Linked DNA regions of Homo sapiens. The gene in region 2 interacts genetically with the main gene of each other region. Each region holds a gene or a part of one and is shown on either strand. Other genes may lie near its edges.

Region 1 (3,732 bases), on a different chromosome or scaffold from region 2:
GAGACATAGCACATAAGGAGGTTGTTTTGCAAAGCATTCTTTAACGGGGTTCTTCTAACAATTAATTTAAATATCTAGAAATTAACAACAAAACCAGGAAATGAATCACTCAACATTTTTAGGTTCGTAAAACTAATTTTCACATTATATTTAAATTGAGACCCCCAGAGAGCAGAAAAGCCGAATGAGGAGTAACAGATACCCCGAAAACTCTGCTTCTGTTATTCACCTTACTGAACCCTCCCACTTTTGATTTTAGCAGACTGGAAAACACACAATTCTCATGGTGTCAATGTTTCAATTTTGACAGCTTTTGCCAACATGGCCATGCACTGTCCAAAGGGACCAGGAAAATCTGTCAACAACCCAGATAAATGTGAACTAGGTAACAGTCCTTATACACTAGGAACATAGGGACTACACAATGTACTAGCAGAAAATAATTCTATTTGCCTTTCAGATATGGACTGAACTGAGTGTAAAGAATATGTAACGCATTATATTCTAGCCAAGTAATTAGCTTTTTAAAATTATAAGTTATTAAGTTGGTAAAAATATATACCCTGCAATTCTTATCTTAAAAAGTACAGCTGGGCACAGTGGCTCACGCCTGTAATCCCAGCACTTTGGGAGGCCGAGACGGGCAGATCACGAGGTCAAGAGATTGAGACCATATTGGCCAACATGGTGAAACCCCGTCTCTACTAAAAATACAAAAATTAGCTGGGCGTGGTGGTGTGCACCCATAGTCCCAGCTACTCAGGAGGCTGAGGCAGGAAAATCGCTTGAATCCGGGAAGCGGAGGTTGCAGTGAGCCAGGATCGCGCCACTGCACTCCAGCCTGGCAACAGTGAGACCGTCTCAAAAAAAAAAAAAATACTAGAGACCAGGCACAGTGACTCACGTCTGTAATCCCAGCACACTGGGAGGCTCAGATGGGAGGATCACTTGATGCCAGGAGTTCAAGACCAGCCTGGCCAACATGGCGAAACCCTGTCTCTACTAAAAATACAAAAATCAGTCAGGTGTGGTGGTGCGTGCCTGTAGTCCCAGCTGCTCGGGAGGCTGAGGCACAAGAATTGCTTGAACCCAGGAGGAGGAGGTTGCAATCAGCCAAGATCCCACCACTGCACTCCAGCCTGGGTGACAGAGGGAGACTCTGCCTCAAAAAAAAAAAAAAAAAAAAAAAAGAGTACTAGGGTAAAATTTCTATTTCCTTTCCATGAACTATGTTAAGTTTTACTTTAAGATTATTAAAGTTAGCCTGTAAAATACAAAAGTTTAACCTAACTTCTAGTAGCTAATCAAACACTAAAGTTACCCAGAGAATTAGGAATCAGCATATTACAGCCAATGGACCAAATGCAGCCACAGCCTTTTTTTTTTTTTTTTGAGACAGAGTCTCGCTCGGTCGTCCAGGCTGGTGTGCACTGGCTTGATCTGGGCTCACTACAGCCTCTGCCTCTCAGGTTCAAGCAATTCTACTGCCTCAGCCCCTTGAGTAGCCAGGATAACAGGCACCCGCCACCACGCCTGGCTAAGTTTTGTATTTTTAGTAGAGACGGGGTTTCAACCACGTTGGCCAGGCTGGCCTCGAACTCCTGACCTCAGGTGGTGTGCCCACCTCGGCTTCCCACCTCATTTCTGGGATTACAGGCATGAGCCACAGCATGCGGCCAGCCTATTTTTATACTATGCACAAGCTAACAACGATTTTTGCATTTTAAAGGGTCATAATTAAAAAAAAATGCAACAGATACCACTTGTGGCCCTCAAAGCCTAAAACATTTACTATCTTGGCCCTTTACAGAAAATATTTGCCAGCCTCTGATTTACATGGATGAGAACTTCTAAATGAATGTTTTGTTCCTTTAACCGGAATATAATTCTTTTTGGGTGTTTACGTGTTTTAGGCTCATGATCAAGACCCCAAAAGTTAGGGCATAAAACAACTTGCCGATAAAATACAACAAGGATATGCACACTAATTTTGTTTAAAAAACAAATAAGGGCCAGGCGCGGTGGCTCATGCCTGTAATCCCAGCACTTTGGGAGGCCGAGGCAGGTGGATCACGAGGTCAAGAGATCGAGACCATCCTGGCTAACACAGTGAAACCCGTCTCTACTAAAAATACAAAAATTTAGCAAGGCATGGTGGCGGGTGCCTGTAGTCCCAGCTACTTGGGAGGCTGAGGCAGAAGAATGGTGTGAACCCGGGAGGCGGAGCCTGCAGTGAGCCAAGATCCCACCACTGTACTCCAGCCTGGGCGACAAAGCAAGACTCCGTCTCAAAAAAAAAAAACAAGAAAGAAAGAAAAATAAATAAATAAATAAATAAATAAATAAGCTGAATAACAGATGAGTAACAAAATACTCTGCAGAAAGGAGGACTTGACATTTTCACCAGTAACTGGAGATGTAAAATTTATTAAAATTCCCATATTTCATTTTATAATCTCTACAGTTACTCGGAATAGCTCTTTAAAGTCTTCCAGAAGCATGCAAATATCAAATTAATTTCAACGGAGGAAGATTAATAAGACTTTTGAAAGGCAAATTAATTTCTAGGCAAATCAACAAGTCCATTTAATAATAAAAGGAAATCAAAGAACAGAAATTAAATATCTAATTTATAGTTTAGCAACATAAATTACATAATAACATCAGTGAAACAGGATGTAAAAGAAAGGTTGAGTGCTCTGTTAAGAAGTACAAGTATTCTTTCATACTGTATCCCTCCATTTTTAATTAGATGATCCACATAAAAATGTCTACAAATCAAATTTGTTTATCTACTTACATATTATATACCTTCAAAAAAACAAATCAAACAAAAAAACCCAAGGCCACAAAACTGTATAAAACCTAAAAATCTCTTATAAAAGGAAGCCAGATAGTTTTCTGATCAAATATGAATGCTGTGTTATATTAAAGTATTAAGGTCAAATAGCAAGAATCAATTAGTACTTCTGAGGTAGTAATCATACAACCACCAAAAAGGAGACACAGCTATTTTAGGATATTATCAAATGAGAAGTGGACAGCAACAAAGTGGGACTAACAAGACTCTTTTTATGTCCTCTACTGCTTTTCTACTCAAAGTATGGTCCAAGTACCAAGAAAAATACCACCTAGGAGTTTGTTAGAAATGCAGACTCGGTCCCCACCTAAACCTTCTGAATTAGAATCTGGATTTTAATAAGCCCAGCTGATTTGTATGCATAAGAAAATATAAGAAGCACTTCTTTACTGCAACCCCTTAAAACATTATGCAAAGTCTCTTAAATTTTTTCTTTTCTTTGTGAAATGTAAGCTAAAATGTTCAGTGGTATAAAAAGCATCTTTTAAAAGTTGTAAGTAAAGCAAATATAAAACAACAATGGTAGAATCTAGGTAGTATATTTGCAAATGTTTTAAATAAAACTCAATTTTGTATTTGAAAATGTTTCATAAGAAAATGTTGGAAGAAAAAATAATAAATATTAGAATCATGTTTTCTCAGTACCTTCTCTCCTAAGAAAAGTCAAGGAGACTGTAAAGACAGTAAAAAGAAAAACAAAAACCAAGCCTCTTCCTGGTCTTTGGAACCTGGAAATGGATTTATGTGAAATCTTAATTCCTCTAAAGTAAAGTGATATATGATATACACCAAGTTTAACCTATAAATCAGGTTTTAGTAAAATTGCCAGATAAATCTGTACAATGGTCAAACTAGAGAAATTCAGTTTTTAA
Region 2 (3,500 bases):
CAAATCAGTCTAGGTTAAGGGCAAAAGCTGACTTCTCAAGAAGTTCAACTCTTTCTGGTTTTATAAGCAACAACTCTGAGACTAAATTGAAATGATTCAGGAAACATCACCACCACCACCCCCCCGCCCAGAAATTAAATAATTGACCTTATAAACACACATATTTCAATTAACTGTTCCATTTTTTTAAATTGCCAATTTATTTTTCTACCCAATCCAGTATCAACGATATACAAAAGGATATAAACAGACTATCATGAATATTTACAGGATGACACACCAAACAATTACCAAGGAACAAATCCTGCAAAGTAACAAATTGTTGCTTATCCATGTCCACTCAACTGTACAAGGTTTATTTCTAGGACAATTTCCCAGTTCTCTGGGAAGGAAGTTCTGTGGATTTATACCTTCCATAAGGGTCAAGCAAACATGCTAAGAGCTGATACCATCATGTTTTTATACTAACAGCCGAGAAAGGCTTTTAAAGAACACTCTCTTTCAGGCCAATGTTACAGCATTAGTGGGCTCATAGACAGGATGTGACTTCATCAAAGGAAATGCTTCTCTCCTCTTGGTCTCCCTAAGGTCCTCCTCCTAGTACACAGGAGGAGTTCCCCATAATAACACCCTGGTTCCAACAGATGGTGTGTAGATTATCAACACACAATGAGAAAAAGAAACTGACCCCCTTACCTACCAAATACAATACAGATCTGGGGAGGCAGTTTCCAGATCTTCAACAGGCAGACACTATGTGGCCTGTATTTAGTACACAGCACATTCTCTTAAGAGAAAACAGGAATGAACATTCTCAGAAACATTCACATTGCTCATCAAATGTAGCTTTACCCAAAGTATATAGGAAATGGCAAAAACCTAACCTAGCTGGACATTTTATACAAGTAAGTCAAAGTTCAAAGGAATCATCCTATCTTTATTCTCAGAAATCCAATGTTGAATATCACAGTTCTTCTTTAATGGAAGCAGAAGATTCAGAGTCCTTGTCTCCCAAAATGCCTCAGCCAGGGTCAGCACAGAGAGTGGAATATAAAAAGCTTAATTGTGTTAATACATGGAAGACAACAGTTCTCAGTCAACCTAGCCACAATTTTCTGTCTTGGCCATCTGTAAGAAATGACTACGTTTGAAATTCAACTTTCACATTCAAAAAAAAGAAATCAATTCAGCTTCAGACACAAAGCAAAACCAAAACAAAAAAACAAATGGCAATAGTCTACATATCTAAACACTTGACAATTGGGGAACTGTCCCACAGTGATATGCTCAAGGCCAGTAGCACCTATTTATAATTTGGCATGTACTGCTTGAAGGGGCAACAGGACCCGGAGCTAAAATATTCAATTATAAAGATATAATACATCGATGAATCAGACAAAAGTAGACATATATGATACCACATTAAAGATTCATATACAGTACTGTGCTGACTTTAAAGAAAATATTTTGGGACACTAGAAGGAAAAGACAATAGGAAAAGAATTACAAAGGAGCATTTCAGTCCAAAGCCAGTCCAGTGAATATCTATGACTAGGATTTCCAATCTTTGATCTCCAAAGAAGCTGATCTAATAAATTCTAACAATACTTCGTTCACATTTGGGACACACAACATACTTCCAAGTACAGTAATCCCTCTGACGTTTTGGTTTCACTTGCTATTTGATGACTAAGTTGTTTCTGGCTATAAAGATCTTCCTATTTTAATTAGCCATTTAACACTACAGAGGCTGCTCCCTTTGAGAGACCAGACAAGTTTCACAGAATTTGATCTAATGAAGATGAATGGTGGGGAAAAAAGGGAACATTTCCTGGGTTTTTTTGCAAACCTTTTTCTCTTGCTTGAAAAACTCTGCAATCACTTAATGTTTTGCTCCAGAAAAAGAAAGCAAAACTAGCTGGGAAAATACCCATACATTAATACTTCGTGTTTACTAGCATGATACAAAATAAATTCATAGATGTCAGTCAATTGTTTCTTAAAGACCAAATGTGAATTTTTAATCTTGTAACTTAAGAACTGAGTTTTTCCACATTCCTTTATATAGAGTTAGCATCTGTAAACTGAGACCCTTTTTTGGGTAATCATACAAATTTAATTTGTCCCTGGAAACAAAAACCCAACCTAACAGATTAACAAAATATGTCCGTTAGACAATATTTTTTGTGAATATTGCTGCACTGTTACCATTTTTATCCTTCAGTAAATGAAACTACACTTAAAAAGTTTATGTATTTTGAGTTTACAAAGAGCTAAACTCTTAATTAAGAAGACTATGAAATCAACCTATACTCATTTCAGAACTGGCTTCCCTCCTTTCAAAAGTAAATTCTAAAAGTTTTTTAGTTATTACTATTAAGTTATATGAGCTAGAGACATTTCGACTGCCATCAATGCTTCTGTAAAATTGAATAAAGATTTTATTATACCACACACACAAAAAGCAATCGGTACAGAAAAGGCAGTTTTCAGTTATTCTGTTGAGAATTTCTTTCCATGATTTCTCCCATTAAAGTATAGTTTTCAAAGCAACCACCACGACAAAGGAAGCATCTAATTAGTCCGTTTTCTTCTGATCCAAGAATGCTGAACATTTACTGTCCCATCTGTAGTTGTATCAGCAGTGTAATGAACACAGTTTATATTACTTAACTATTCTTTGAACTCCAAGAACTGTTGAAGTCTTTTCTGATGTTCTGCAGATGCTTGCACAGCACTAAATGAAACATAAATTCAAAGCATAAGCTTTATTTTACATTAAGCATATTAAGTGAACCACAGAGCACAGAGACAATATTTTTCAAAACAATTAAAAATGAATAGAAATCTTCACTTATTACTATTTCTGAAAAAGCTGGATGAAAACTCTTTTTAATCTAATGAAGAGGAGGGCTTGCATTCAGTAATGGCATGCTTCTATCTTCTAAAAGACCAAACAAATTAAGACTGACAAGTGAAGGCATTGACTTTAACCTGCTCTGCTATGGAACCTGCTGTGCGGAGTTCCAGGCCTTGGAGTAGATTTTCTGGATTTTATTATTTTATTTAAACCAGATTCCAACATTATCTTTGAGTTGTGGAGTATCTGAATTGCCTTTAATACAAAATCCTTTAATCTAAAATGTTTGGTTAAAACACAATAGACTCCATTAATTGTTTTCAAAGGTAACAGCTTGGTGGTTTAGATTTACTTCTCCCTTTGAACATAAGTTATGTTTTGGATGTGAACACTGTGTTCTCTCTCCACCCTCACCATCACGAAAATATATTACACCTTGATAAAATTAGGGCAAATATATACTGAAACTAGTATAATACTTCCTCTTAAACTTTTGGGCAAAAATTGAATATAATGAAAAATTCCGGTTTTCTAGTTCTTGAATAGGTCACCGCTTTTAAAAGTGCCAAAACGGTCTTATTTTAATAATTGTGTTATGAATTGCCCTAAAATGTCTTATAGACATCTTTGCTTTCTTGAA
Region 3 (3,732 bases), on a different chromosome or scaffold from region 2:
AGACCAGCCTGGCCAACATGGTGAAACCCCATCTCTACTAAAAATAAAAAAATTAACCAAGGTGTGCTGGCATGCACCTGTAGTCCCAGCTACTTGGGAGGCTGAGGCAGGAGAATCACTTGAACCTGGAAGGCAGGGGTTGCAGTGAGCTGAGATTGCACCACTGCACTCCAACCTGGGCAACAGAGTGAGACTCTGCCTCTAAATAAATAAATAAATAAAATGCTACACTCTTGGTGCGCTGACTCCACATAGGGCATAGATATCTAGAGAGCCTGTATCGCGAATGTGAGCACTGCTTAGAAACCTTACAGGTTATGTCATCCTCGTAGAGAACATTTGAGCTCGGTTTGGTGTCACTGTCTTTGTCCCTGACTCACTGGTTGTAGAAGACAATGTAATACAGAGATATCAGTGATAAATTGAAAATAACTCTAGCTAAATGGCTAAGATTAATCATTTACTTCCCCCAACACTTTTGGTTAATGTACATTTAACCAAAAGTTAAGTGTGTTGGTAAACCTATAAGAGAGAGTCTCAGGAGTGTCTAAAGCCGCAAGGGAAAGAGAGCACCTCCCTTCACTTTAGCCTTGAAAAGCCCTGAGGAGGAGGTAAGATTTTTTAAGGGTTACTTGAATGACAGAATGAAAGGCAGGCAAACTAGATTGAGAGCATGTTCTGGGAATACGACATTGCTTGTGGCAGTGTTCGCTGGGTCAGAGTGGTATTTATTCCACATGCCTCTAAGAGCCTTCTCTGAGACAGTCAAAAGGATGCCTTCTGCCTCTTCATACACGGAACTTAGACTAGAGTGGGGAGGACCTAGATGGTCTAATTGGAAAGAGGGTGTTCAGCTTAACGCAGATGGAGAGAAGGGATAGGCTGAGGAATAGGAACCCGTTCAGACAGATGCCAAGGCAGAGCCAGCATGGTGCTCAGCTCCACTCTGTGGAGGTTGTGCCTCCTGAGTTTATGCAACTTTATAATTAGACTTGATTCGTCATAGAGAAGGGAACCTGGTGACCTTCAGGCAGGAAATTATGTGAACAGATGTTTGACAGTGGCAGTGAACAGTACATGGGAAAGAGTAAGAGGGAGGGAGGGAAAGGAGACACAGCAAAGTAGGAAGTGGGTGGAGGTGTGAGCAAGGTCTGCAGTAACAGTAAAGGATAACACCTCAGAATGGCTGCAGATTTCATGTGTATGATGAGAGGCTGTGATGTGTTGAAGATGAACCCAGACTTTCTTATTTGGAAGGTTAGGATAGAATGACACTGTCTGGAGTCATGGAAAACCCAGTCACTGAGCAGTCTGTTCCATGTTTAGTTTAGACGCAGGTGGAGGAGGATTAGCATGAGATGAATGACAAAGCAGCAGGTGGATGCTCAGACCTTGTGACCTTTCAAGGCTCCTGCGCAGTTAGGATGAAGTGATTCTATGGCAAATTGAGTACAAAAGTTCAGGAAGGGCCAGACGCGGCGGCCCATGCCTGTAATCCCAGCACTTCGGGAGGCTGAGGCAGGTGGATCACCTGAAGTTAGTAGTTCAAGACCAGCCTGACCAATATGGTGAAACCCCATCTCTATTAAAAATGCAAAAATTAGTTGGGCATGGTGGCGGGCGCTGGTAGTCACTTGAGAGTCACTTGAACCTGGGAGGCACAGGTTGCCGTGAGCCAAGCTTGTGCCACTGCACTCAGCGTGGGCGACAGAGCAAGACTCCATCTCCAAAAAGAAAAGGTCAGGAAGGGACAGGTCGTCTACATGTGTCACAGAGGCGAATAAACTTACCCCGAGGAGCCTGGCCTCTTGCTTCTCTGTTCAGTCTGTTTCCCTGCCCCGCTTTTGGTTACTGGTGAGCTGCATCATTCAGTCCTCTGACCCTCACTCCCCGCAGACTCCTGTCTCCCGTCTGTCCATCCTAGGCCTTCTGTTACTTTCTTCGTGCCCTTGATGCCTTGCATTCCATGTATTCACCTGTAAGTCCATGAACAGATCACCCTAGCCAGTATCTATACACAAACCTGTGTCTCACCTGTGCTCTGGCCCGATGGGCTTCCCACCTGCTGCTGACCACTGTTGTTCCTCCAGCCAGATGAGCTGCTCCCTGGTAATGTCCTGGTTATTGACTCATGACACAACCAAATCTTTGTTTCCTAAAGATGATGATCATGGGAGGTCCTGTCCTTTCAAATATGCGTGTGAGTTGATCAGAGCAGGGGCTCTGGGTACATCTCTCAGTGTCCTAAACATCATGTTTCAGTCATCCCTTTGCAGCTCTGAATGCTCTGAGCTTTGTCAAGCCTCACTGACTAATACATTTCATTAGGTTCATTTCAAATGACATGCATTTGTATACATTTTACCAGGTTGGTTGTATGAATTTATTTAAAAATTAAAGGAGACCTTAGTATAATAAACATTCTATATGATTATAAAGTCAGGAATTAGATCTTGACCACATCTCTCCAGAACTCACACTGCAGCTCACCCTGTAACTCAGTGAGCGCTTGATAACAGTGATGATAGTGGAGATGAAGATATATATTTTGCTCTTCCTAGGTTGAATACTGTCTTTCCAACTCCTCTGAGTTGTAGGGATGAGGCAGCTTTTTCTCCTCTGTGTTTATATTAGCACCGTGCACACAGTAGGAACCCATGAAACAGTAATTTAGTTGATGTGTCCAGGGTCTGCCAAGCTGCTGTATTTATCCACTTTATTACATATATTGACAATTTACCACCAGTTCTATGAAAATGAAATATATCTGTTCATATGGCTTTTTACTTTCCTTAGAATAATTTGAAATTTGAAGTTAATAGAACACAGTTTTGCATTCATTCAGCAAGTATTTATTGAATGTCTACTCTGTCAAGTGCTAGGGATCCACAGAAAGAATCAGACATGGTTTCTGTTTCCCAGGAGCACGTGGTCAGCTAGCACAGGGAATAAACTTACCAGTATGTAAATATTCACAAGGTCATAGAATGGATGAGTGAGTTGAGAGACATTCAACGTTCTATGGCACATCACATAGAAGAAGCAACTGGGCCGGGCGCGGTGGCTCATGCCTGTAATCCCAGCACTTTGGGAGGCCGGGGTGGGTGGATCACCTGAGGTCAGGAGTTTGAGACCAGCCTGACCAACATGGTGAAACCCTGTCTCTACTAAAAATGCAAAAATTAGCTGGGTGTGGTGATGGATGCCTGTAATCCCGGCTACTCGGGAGGCTGAGACAGGAGAATCACTTGAACCCAGGAGGTGGAAGCTGCAGTAAGCTGAGATTGCACCATTGTACTGCAGCCTGGGCAACGAGCAAAACTCTGTCTCAAAAAAACAAAAAAAGAGCAGCAGCAACTGACTGGTTGGATCAGGAAAGACTCTGAGAAAGGACTCCTGACCTGGCTCTTCCAGAATGAGGATGGATTTTCCATATGAAGGAGCCGGGGGCAGGACCTTCTGGGTAGAGCGTGAAAAGAACACAGTATGTGTGGAGAGCGGGAAATTGTGTTGAACTGTCTAGAAAACAGAGCCACAGGAATGCGTGTTGAGGGCTTGGGCTGTACAGTGGAGAGTGCCCTCCCTGGCCAGGGAGTTGGACATTCATCCCACCACAAGACCCCATGAAGAGTTTCTCAACAGCTCTGTGTCCTCATCAAACCTGTGTTTGCAGAACAGTGGAGGAAGAGAGCTGAAGGAGGGGAGAGGCCCTGCACCTGCCAGGCCCTGGCC

The links.
Region 1: changes in NDC1 (region 2) and KRAS are lethal when combined (synthetic lethality), as found in Homo sapiens cells (2 studies listed by BioGRID).
Region 3: changes in NDC1 (region 2) and SPPL3 together harm fitness less than expected from each alone (positive genetic interaction), as found in Homo sapiens cells (one large-scale study listed by BioGRID).

Annotation. Positions count from the first base shown.
Region 1 is NC_000012.12:25,219,859-25,223,590, forward strand, and holds part of KRAS (GTPase KRas), read right to left. Parts: intron 17-3,732; exon of another isoform or gene 1-16. UniProt on the Homo sapiens protein: Ras proteins bind GDP/GTP and possess intrinsic GTPase activity. Plays an important role in the regulation of cell proliferation.
Region 2 is NC_000001.11:53,765,297-53,768,796, forward strand, and holds the end of NDC1 (nucleoporin NDC1), read right to left. Parts: intron 2,738-3,500; coding exon 2,674-2,737; 3' UTR 182-2,673; downstream 1-181. UniProt on the Homo sapiens protein: Component of the nuclear pore complex (NPC), which plays a key role in de novo assembly and insertion of NPC in the nuclear envelope.
Region 3 is NC_000012.12:120,771,639-120,775,370, reverse strand, and holds part of SPPL3 (signal peptide peptidase-like 3), read left to right. Parts: intron 1-3,732.